4 separate regions of the Homo sapiens genome follow, and all the other regions are linked to region 1. The links come from fine-mapping of genetic effects on gene expression. A gene starts in region 1. Each other region holds a variant in brackets. All regions are shown on one strand. Distances are from middle to middle.

Region 1 (2,692 bases):
ATTACAGGCGTGAGCCACCGCACACAACCTACATAGGATTTTAAGTATGCATACGTTCTCATTTACTTGGCCAATATCTTATTTATGGATATAATTTTTTCTAGTCATTTATTTTCTCAAGCAATGCTGCAACAAATATCTTTTCACATAAGTCTTTGTGTACAAGTGTAAACATATAGCTTGGACAAATTTATAAAAAATACAATTGTTGGGTCAAAGGGTATGAATATTTGTATTTGAGAGATACTGGGAAATTGCCCTCTAAATATGTTTACAATCTCATCAGTAGTGTTTGAGAGTGCTTGTTTCTTCACAACTTTGCCCACACCATGTATTATTGTTTTGACCTTCGGTATTTGGAGAGGGAAAACTTTTTTCTTTTTTTTTTCTTTTGAGACGGAGTCTCGCCCTGTCGCCCAGGCTGGAGTGCAGTGGCGCGATCTCGGCTCACTGCAAGCTCCACTTCCCGGGTTCACGCCATTCTCCTGCCTCAGCCTCCCGAGTAGCTGGGACCACAGGCGCCCGCCACCGCGCCCGGCTAATTTTTTGTATTTTTAGGAGAGACGAGGTTTCGCCGTGTTTGCCAGGATGGTCTCGATTTCCTGACCTCCTGATCCACCTGCCTCGGCCTCCCAAAGTGCTGGGATTACAGGCGTGAGCCACTGCGCCCGGCCGAGAAAATTTTTTTCATTTACATTTTTAAAAATTATAAGTACCATTGAGAAATAATACTTCTTAAAAATTATAGATTAGTAACGAAACAGAATTTCCTAAAGTCATATGTGACTTTGGCTTTCTTTTGGGTGAAGGATCCCAGATAATGTACTTTTCTAGAAAGGAAATTTAATTCTGTTGCTAGGGTTCTTACAAAATGTGTAACCATAAACTATTTTAATAAGAGACAGTTTCGTAGATAGGTTTCATTTTTCGAAAAAGGGGAAGAAACACCATTCTGTGGCTTGATGTGGCTTTGTCAGTTACTGCCTCCCCACCTCCCGGGACTTCCCACTGCCTCTTTAGCACAAATCGGACTTGAACAAAAACAACTCTTTTTCCATGGGACCAATTATAAAAAGAATGGCTTTGCACTGAGCAGCTCAGTCTACTGGTCTCATCAGTGAAAGGCTTGTGAAAATTTCTGGAAAGAGCATTGGCTGGCTTGTTCATCTCTCTGTTTGGTCAGTTGCTGTGTTTCTGCCGGATCAGATGAGCAGATTGGTTAGTGAAGGTAAGAAAAAGAAAGCAAAGGACCCTAGAACTCCGCTATTATTTTTTGTCATCTGTCTTCTCACGCTTTCTTAGCCCTTTATCACGAGAGCGCTGATCCATTCTTATGACATCTAAAATGCTTTTCTAGCTTACCATATCAGAGACAAGTGGGAGTTTAAACAAGCATTCAGTGGAGTTGAAAAATAAAGAGAAATTAAGCCCAATACTTCCTTTCCTTACCTCCTCGTGTCCACATTCTAAGCATTTCTAAAACACTTATATTTTTACCTACAATTTTTGACTGATCTGAGCAAATATTTATTGTGTTATTTTTGCAGTCCTCTTTCACTAATTGCCACACTGGTTTAGCTTCTGCATTTTTAAAAGAAGGCCTAAAAACCTAAGCAGGGTTTTGCAGGGACAACACAGCTCTTGAATTCAGTTACGGTGATGCAGTTTTAGAGACGAAAACAATCACAGTCCTTTCCAATTGGATTTGACTCTCAATTATTCAGTTCAGCAAGCTTGTGATAGTGTTTTTCTGTGTGGCAGGATGTATTCAAAATGAATGCGATCTATAGTGAGGATGCTTTTCGACTTTCATCTGGGTGATTTGGGGAAAGCTTCCCTTTTGGTATTAAAGATAGCGCATGTACGAGTGGAGTTTTGTTTGAATTATCTTTAGACTCGCTCAAACATTCTTTGTCTTGCGCATATGAATCTGTGCTTAAATATAGACCTGGTTTGGACAGAATATTTATATTGATATTTTATAACATTTCTTGCATAGGTCAGTGTGAGAAGAAGATTGTTTCTGAGCTTGAGAAGCTTCTGGAGGATTGAAGAGTATTTGAAGTCTGTGTCAAACATCCATATCATAAGTGGAATTTTGGAGATATTCAAAGGTAGTACACTAATTCTATTATCTCAGAGCAAAATGATGTTTGAAGTATTTATATCAAGTCACTGAGACATTTCTCATCTCATATGTAGTGATTATTTTAGATATATAAGATATTGTCCCTCTAGGCTCTTAATAAACATTATACAATGTAAATATGCCTTCATTAACTAAATATGGTTTTTTCCCCCTCCCAATTTTTATTTAGAAATGTTTCAAATCTATATAAAAATTGAAAGAATAGTACAACGAACACCCATATTTTCATCATGTGTATTAATCAGTGGTATCTTTTTGCCACATTTACTTTCTCTCTCGCTTTGTCTTTCTCTGTCTCTGCCTGTCCTTTTCTCTCTCTCTATATGTGTATATATATATTCACACACACGCATGCACATATGCACAGTTTTTTCCCTGAATGGTTTGAAAGTATGTTGCTGACTTTAGGACACATGTCACCCCTAAATTCTTGAGCATGTATCTCCTAAAAATAAAGGCAGTCTTCTATAACACATTACAACACCACGGAAACATAACATCAACACAATACTATTATCTAAGATGTGATACACATTCAAATTT
Region 2 (2,692 bases), 49 kb after region 1:
AGTGTTCAACTTGGAGGTAGCAACAGGAGCTGGTGGTTGCAGGTGGGAAGAGGGGATCATCTGGAAAGTTCAGGGGTTGAGGCATTTGATCTTCAGCTGTGGTGGAGTTTTTGGCATCCAGTGTCAAAGGATTTGAGTGGTGGGTTTGCGATATAATTGTGTGTTTTCTCAGACTGTATTATCTCTCAGTGCTTTGATCCTGGGACTACAGTATATAGGTCCATTCTTTGGTCCTCTCACAGTATCTGCCTAACATATTTTGATATGTATTTTATGCCTAAATTAGCAGATCCTGTTGTCTGCAACTAAGAATCCTGGCAGGTGGACAGGATGTATATAGGAGAGGTTGAAGATAAACCTGAGGTGGGGTCTTTTCCCCACTTATCCCAGAAACAAGGGACGATGGAGTGGTTAGACAGAGAAAACTAGAGCTAATACTCCAAAGCTGCCCTTGGGTCTTAAATGGCACTATTTCCACATGCCCCCAACAGGTTACCTAGTCTAATCAGGTAGTATACCAGAGTGGGTTGCTATGGCACTTGGTAATTTTATTTTTTTTGAGACAGAGTCTCACTATGTTGCCCAGGTTGGAGCGTAGTGGTGCAATCTCAGCTCACTGCAATATCTGCCTCCTGGGTTCAAGCGATTCTCCTGCCTCAGCCTCCTGAGTAGCTGTGATTACAGGCACGTGCCACCACGCCCAGAAAAGTTTTTGTATTTTCAGTCGAGACGGGGTTTCACCATGTTGTCCAGGGTGGTCTCGAATTCCTGACCTCAGGTGATCTGCCCGCCTCGGCCTCCCAAAGTGCTGGGGTTACAGATGTGAGCCACAGCACCTGGCCCACTTGGTGACTGAATGGCAATCACAGTATGTTGTAATTTATAAAAATGGCCACAAATTATTTCTTTCCATCTATCCATGCCCTTTAATAGTGTACCCCTACACTTGCTTTAGCCAATGGGACATTAGAAAATATTATGTAAACTTGAAAAGTGACTTGAAAAGCAATTGCGCAGTGGAGTTTTCCCCTCTGTCTGCTTTTGTAATAGCTGCTTTTTTTTTCAGTGGTGACATGAAAACCTCCAGCTAGCCCGCCAGATAACCAAAGGTAGATGGGCTAGTAACTCCCGTTGTACGTGTCAACCACCAAACATTTGAATGGTGAGGCCAATTGGTTACCCATTGACCTGCCAACCATGAATGCATGAACAACCCAACTGAAATTCCTTGAGCCTGGTCCAGACAATGAAGTGCCCAGCAGAATCATGAGCTAGATAGTTATTTTAAACCACTAAATTTAAAAACATTTTATCA[C/T]GCTACTAAAGCCAACTGACACATACTGAGACTTCTTGAGGGGTTTCATAGGCACCCCTGAGAACTAAGATAGAGCCAAGTTGTCTGGAAGAGCAGTCCACAAGTTGCATCAGCCAAAATCTTCAGCAGCAAGTGCCAATAGAGTACCCAAGGATGGGACCGGATCAATACCACGTTATGGACAACGCTGTCTTCCCACAATGCCACGAGGTAGAGTAAACCCTGTGAACTTCTTAGAAACAATAGTAGATGCAAGGAAAATCTGAAGTCTGGGCCCATTCAAATAAAACTCAGTTTAAATTATTTAAATTAAGACTTAATGGAGTTACCAGGTTGGGCTAAACTTTAATTTTTATTCTACCTGTAGAGTGAAAAACATACCAGTTATAAAAAATGAAAGAGTTAGTGTAAGTGACATTGCAGAGTCAAGATCATTTTTTGCATAATTTATTAAGTTCAGTGTAATTTATGATCATGAAAATTAATGTATCATTAAATATTAATTAAAAGAAGATAAAAAAGAATGTTTAATCTGTGATATAGCACTAGAGAAATTATTTTGCAGTGTTGGGAACAGGTCCCCAAATCTGGCCATAAACTGGCCCCAAAACTGGCCACAAACAAAATCTCTGCAGCACTGTGACATGTTCATGATGGCCATGATGCCCACGCTGAAGGTTGTGGGTTTACTGGAATGAGGGCAAGGAACACCTGGCCCACTCAGGACGGAAAACCACTTAAAGGCGTTCCTAAACCACAAACAATAGCATGAGCAATCTGCACCTTAAGGACATGTTCCTGCTGCAGATAACTAGCCAGAGCCCATCCCTTTGTTTCAGCCCATCCCTTTGTTTCCCATAAGGAATACTTTTAGTTAATCTACAATCTATAGAAACAATGCTTATCACTGGCTTGCTGTCAATAAATAGGTGGGTCAAACTCTGTTCGGGGCTCTCAGCTCTGAAGGCTGTGAGTCCCCTGATTTCCCACTCCACACTCTATATTTCTGTGTGTGTGTCTTTAATTCCTCTAGCGCCGCTGGGTTAGGGTGTCCACGACCGACCGAGCTGGTCTCGGCATTGCAGAACTATATAAAATGCCATTTGTGAAGATTATGTAATAGTGTAGAAAAATACTTCTGTTTTAATATTAAGAGAAACATCATTAAACAATATTGTATGTAGTATTACTTACTGTTACATTTTTAATAAACAAATCATTTTTGCATAAAAAGTAAGCTAGAAGAAAGGACACGTAATACTCAAAGAGTCTATACTGAGATAATGGGACTAGATGTGATTTTTTTGTCTTTGTATATTTTCCAAATTATCTTAATGATAATGTACTGTTTATAATATTGATTTTGAAAAATTTAGA
Region 3 (2,692 bases), 620 kb before region 1:
TTTTCTAATTTAACTTTCCTGTTAAATTAGAACTCGGTAGCATAAATTAATACTGTTGAGTATACTTAGGGATTTGCATAGATTTAAAATTGTGCATATGTTCCCTAGGGCCATGGCGTTAATTGGTTTATTAGTCAGGTGGAGTGCAGAGCCTGAGGTCAGGACAGTTGTCCTTGAACATGGAAATGAAGAGTGGATAATCACCATGTGTTATTGTTTGGGCTGATTTTATCTTTAATGGGTGATTCAGAGTCCTGATTAATATTTAGAGCAGTGACTGCTGGCCTCCTACCTGCTCATTATCTTCAGAACTTTAAATAAAATACTTGATTTCTACCCAAGATGGTAGTTATGGGAAGCCTTTTACTTCTTCTTGTCTCACAAAGACAACTCTTGACCTCTCAATCCTTAAACAAAAAGTTCTGCTTCTGCGCATGTGGGGACTCTTAAACTCATTTTCATGCCTGGAGATTCACATTTAGGGATCTAGGAAAAGCACATCTAGGCAGAGTCGATGAGGAGATGCTTTAAGAACCGTGACAAGGACAGGAAGGAAATCAATTTTGCGTTAGGTTTGTATTTTTAGAGAAAACGAATCCTGGGGAACTTTTCACACTCATTACTATTGACATTAATACCATTGTCCTGTCCCTTTCACAGTTACTAAAATCACTCTTGCCCACCCTCCTGCCTTGCCCACAACCTATTCCCATGAAGGGGTGACTTGGGAGAAATAACGGTTTCCAACCAACGTTTTATTTTGGAAACATTTCAAGCACAAAGAGTAGTTGAAAGGATAGTCTAAAGAACACTCATCTGTGTCATACATCTGTTCAATCCATGGTTGCTTTTCGCTCTACTTACCTCCTCCACCCTCTCAGCTCTGTTTATGTATGTGTCTGTCTGTGTACATACACACACAAACACATTTTCCCCTATGCCATTTAAAAGTAAAGGAGCATCACAACATAAACCCCTAAACACTTCACCATACACCATTTTCTTAAAGGATGACATTCTCTAACATAACTGCAATGCTATCGTTACACACAAATTTAACAGCAATCCAGCAATACCCTCTGATATGCAGTCCACACTGAACTTTCCCCAGTGCCCCAGAATTGTTCCTTATAGCCACTGTTTTCTTCCAGCATCTAGTCAAGGTTTTTGTCTGTCATGTCTCTGTACCTTCATTTAGTTTTGAACAGTCTCCCAGCATTTTGTTTTCCTTTCATGACATTGACTTTTTTGGTAGGGGGACAGAGTCTCGCTCTGTCACCCAGGCTGGAGTGCAGTGGCGCAATCTCGGCTCACTGCAACCTCTGCTTCCCGAGTTCATGTGACTCTCCACCTCAGCCTCAGGAGTAGCTGGGATTACAGGCATGCACCACCACACCCGGCTGATTTTTGTATTTTT[A/G]GTAGAGACAGGGTTTCACCACGTTGGCCAGGCTGGTCTTGAACTCCTGACCTCAGGTGATCCACCTGCCTCGGCCTCCCAAAGTACTGGAATTACAGGTATCAGCCACCACGCCGGGCTGACGTTGACATTTTTGAAGAGTTCAGACCAGTTCTCTTGAAGAATGTCCCATACTCTGGGCTTTTCTGATGGTTTCCTTGTGATTAGATTAATGTTAACATTTTTTGGCCAAAAGACGATAAGATGATGCTCTGTACCTACCACTGTATCACAATCTGGAGGAACAAAATAACATTTTGTTCCTATTGGTATCACTAAGAATGTTAAGGTGGTGTCTACAAGATACTTTCCTTGTAAAATATCCTTTTCCCTTTGTAATGAGAAAGTAATTTTTTGATATTTTGACATATTATAATATCCATTCCTTAACCTTTTACCCTATGGTTTTAGCATTTATGGATGATCCTTGTCTAATTCAGTTATAATATTGGTGGTTGCATAATGGTGGCTTTCTAATTCTACCATACTTTCTGCATGTATTAGACCATTTTCTTATGTAAAGAAGAGCTTCTACCTCTCCCCCGTCTATTCATGAATATCACTGTGGACATCCAAGGTGGTTCTGAGTGTACAAAGAATGATATCTCTCTTTACTGAACTGCCATTGGATACTATTTTTGTCTTGGAATTGTTTAAAATGGCAGTGTATGGAATTGAAAGTCCTTTCTCCAGAGAGCCACATAAACAGATGTCTAATAAATACATTTCCATATTAACCAATCCTTTTATGGGAACAACACATTGACATAATTAAAACACGTAACATGAAAACTGTGCTGAATTGAGAAGCTCATAGAGTTTTGTTTCTTTTTTTTCCTTTTTGCCACTTCAATATATATGGACCCGCACCTGTCAGTCCAGGTAGCTCATACATGCCGTAGCATCTAATGGTACGAGGGACATGTAATGCTGAAAAGAAGGGGGAAAGGAGTTGATCAGATGAGATATAAGTATGCATTTATCAGTGTTGTGGGGTATTCACTTGCACCTTCCATTGGCTCTCGCAGCCATGTTATCGGCATATAATTCAGTTGAAGATTTATATTCACCTGGAAATTGTCCTAAGTGGGCCTTGCTTACTTAGCTATCAGACTCTAGTACTTTCAAACAAATTAAAGATTCAAAAGATTTTGGGGATCGCCTTGCTTTTTCCCATAGGAAATCACTTTTGTCCTGTCTTTTTAAGACTATTTTAAGCATATATTTCAGTATTAA
Region 4 (2,692 bases), 32 kb before region 1:
TACAGGTGCCTGCCACCATGTCCCGCTTAATTTTCGTATTCTTAGTAGAGACAGAGTTTCCCCATGTTGGTTAGGCTGGTCTTGAACTCCTGACCTCAGGCGATCCGCCTGCCTCAGCCTCCCAAAATGCTGGGTTTATAAGCGTGAGCCACCATACCCGGCCAGTTTTCTCGTTTTTAAAAATGGGTAAAGGCCGGGCGCCCTGGCTCACGCCTGTAATCGCAGCATTTTGGGAGGGTGAGGCAGGCAGATCACCTGAGGTCAGGAGTTTGAAACCAGCCTGGCCAACAGGGTGAAATCCCATCTCTACTAAAAATACAAAAATAAGCCTGGCGTGTTGGCGCATGCCTGTAATCCCAGCTACTGGGGAGGCTGAGGCAGGAAAATCATTTGAGCCTGGGAGGCGGAAGCTGCAGTGAGCCAAGATAGCGTTATTGCACTCCAGCTTGGGCGACAGAGCAAGACTCTGTCTCCAAATAAATAAATAAAAATAAAAATGGGATAAGATTAGTAACTAACTCATAGGGTCGTGGAAGTGAGTAAATGAAATAAAACATATAAAGGGTGTAGTACTGTGCCCAACACATGGCAAATGCTTCACAAGTTGTTGTTTCTGCCTCAGATTAAAACCATTGCGAATGTTTTCAGTGGAGTGTAGGGTTTCTTTTAAAAAAAGATGGAAAATTTCTGATTTTGAGGGCTTCAATATTTAAAGGGGAAAAGCAGGCTGGAGGGGAAAGAGGGAGGGCATGGTCACATTACTGAATTTACATATTGCTAGAGAATAGGAGCAGGTAGGGGAATAGTCAATTATGTATTTGTCTAACGCTTAGTAAATCGGCACTTTACATAAGATAAGCTGAACATAGAGTAGTTACCTGCGGAGATATTTAACCTTTTATGTGTAGCTATTTGCTTCAAAACAAAAGGAAAGGCAGTTTCTTGCATGACTCAGCTTTTAGCTTAATTTTTTCCTTTGGCAGAGTGAATTGGGTTTCCAAGATTTTATTTTCCTTTTACACAGCACACCCAAAGTACGTGACACAATCTAATTTCATGTGGGCAACAATAACTTTCACATTGAGCATATGAGAAATCCGGAGAGACTCATGGCATAGACTGTGATATAAATAGAATCCTTAAATTGTGGAGTGTACCCACCTACACATGAACTAAATCTATTTTTATGAGATCATCACTGACTCCATATTGAGCATATTAAGGAACCCAGAAACATCTGTGGAATAGAGTGTAATATGAAAGGTCTGCCTACAGCTGTGTAGTGCACCCAACTGTATATAGAATAAGTCTACTTCCATGGGGTCATCACTTCCTTCCACACTAAGCAAATTAGGAATTTAGGAAGAT[C/T]CCTAGTATAGATTGTGGTGTGATTGCTGCCTCCTTGATTTGTGTAGTCCTCTCAACCATGCATAGACTAGGTCTACTTTGATATGACTATCACTAAATCACATTCACATATGAGTAGATCTGAATAATTTATGATATATACTGTGCTATAAATGGCAGCCCTTCAGTTGTGCAATGTAACAATCTCTGCATGGTAGACCTATTCTCTATAGTTATCCATTCTTTTTTCTTCCTTGAATTTTAAAGTACAGATTCCCTGAATTTTAGCTGAAGAAATGACCACCAAAATAAAGACAACATTTCTCAGCCACTTTTGTAACAAACTGTGGCTATGTAAATTCTAGACCATGTGTGTAAGACATGTGAAACTTCCAGGAAGTGTCTTTAAAGTGAGGTAGATGCTCTTCCAGAAAATTTGAATGAGATTGGATAGTTGAGTCTAAGAAGTCATATTCGGACATGAGGCAGAAGCTATGTGTGGAAGACAGTAGAGCAACAAACTGGAATGGGCCTGTTTCTTAATGACTGGAGGGTTACTATGCCATTCCTGGGCTGCTGACTTTGACTACTTACTTGAGAACTATCTTGTTTATAAGCCACTCCTTAATGTAAGATGTGAGTCCAACGTAGCCATTCCAAATCCCAACTGTTAGGGTTATTTTTATGTGTCAACTTGGCTAGGCTGTTATGCCCAGTTGGTCAAATGCCAATCTAGATGTTGCTGTGAGGTTATCTTTTTAGATGTGATTGATATTTAAATCAGTAGATTTGAGTAAACAGATTACCCTCCATAATGTGGGAGGGCCTCATCCAATTAGTTGAAGGCCTTGAGAGAAAAGACTGGAAGGCCACTGAAGAAGAAGAAATGATGTTTCCAGATTGCCTTCAGACTCAGGACGTCGACTTCTTGCTGGAATTTCCAGTCTGATCTGTGGGTTTGGGTCTTTTTAGCCCCCGCAATCATATGAGGCAATTCCTTAAAATAAATCTCACCATCTCTGTCTTTCTCCTTCTGTCTTTCCGTGTGTGTGTATACACACGTTCTGTTTTTCTGAAGAATCCTGACTAATCCATCAACTAATTCAGTTTTTGGTTTATTTTAGTTCATATATTCTATTCTACTTCAAAGACCGCCTGCTTAAATACTATAAATAAATGTTGCAGAAACCAGCTATGAGCCAACAGTGTAACTTTTGGACAAGTGATTTTATACATCTAAAATTAGGTACAAATAATTAGGTAATAATCCTCTGCATGTATCACAGAACTATTTTGAGGACAAAATAGCTGTGTTTGGAAAACAAAGGCAAAAAAAGTACTTTAA

Direction of the effects. Positions count from the first base shown, and alleles are read on the strand shown. Sizes are in standard deviations (SD) of each study's normalised expression. Not every link is listed here.
For the expression in thyroid of the gene that starts at base 1,100 in region 1, allele G in region 3 goes with a lower level than allele A (small effect, 0.35 SD a copy in GTEx).

Evidence for each region. PIP is the estimated chance that this variant, and not a neighbour inherited with it, causes the effect.
Region 2: its variant is the best candidate, but not a certain one, in a credible set for the expression of TASL in whole blood (TOPMed, PIP 0.52).
Region 3: its variant is the best candidate, but not a certain one, in a credible set for the expression of TASL in thyroid (GTEx, PIP 0.80).
Region 4: its variant is the best candidate, but not a certain one, in a credible set for the expression of TASL in whole blood (TOPMed, PIP 0.51).

Annotation. Positions count from the first base shown.
Region 1 is chrX:30,576,174-30,578,865 of GRCh38, reverse strand. It overlaps TASL (TLR adaptor interacting with endolysosomal SLC15A4), which reads left to right and starts at 1,100. Exons shown (of 3, transcript NM_025159.3): 1 at 1,100-1,228; 2 at 2,000-2,114. RefSeq lists an enhancer at 869-1,078.
Region 2 is chrX:30,526,831-30,529,522 of GRCh38, reverse strand. No RefSeq gene overlaps it. Among named protein-coding and RNA genes, the nearest start is that of TASL, 50 kb to the left of the region's middle. The variant C/T (reference allele first, on the strand shown) is at 1,316.
Region 3 is chrX:31,192,744-31,195,435 of GRCh38, reverse strand. All of the region lies in intron 67 of DMD (dystrophin), which reads left to right. Among named protein-coding and RNA genes, the nearest start is that of FTHL17, 120 kb to the right of the region's middle. The variant A/G (reference allele first, on the strand shown) is at 1,418.
Region 4 is chrX:30,608,654-30,611,345 of GRCh38, reverse strand. No RefSeq gene overlaps it. Among named protein-coding and RNA genes, the nearest start is that of TASL, 32 kb to the right of the region's middle. The variant C/T (reference allele first, on the strand shown) is at 1,369.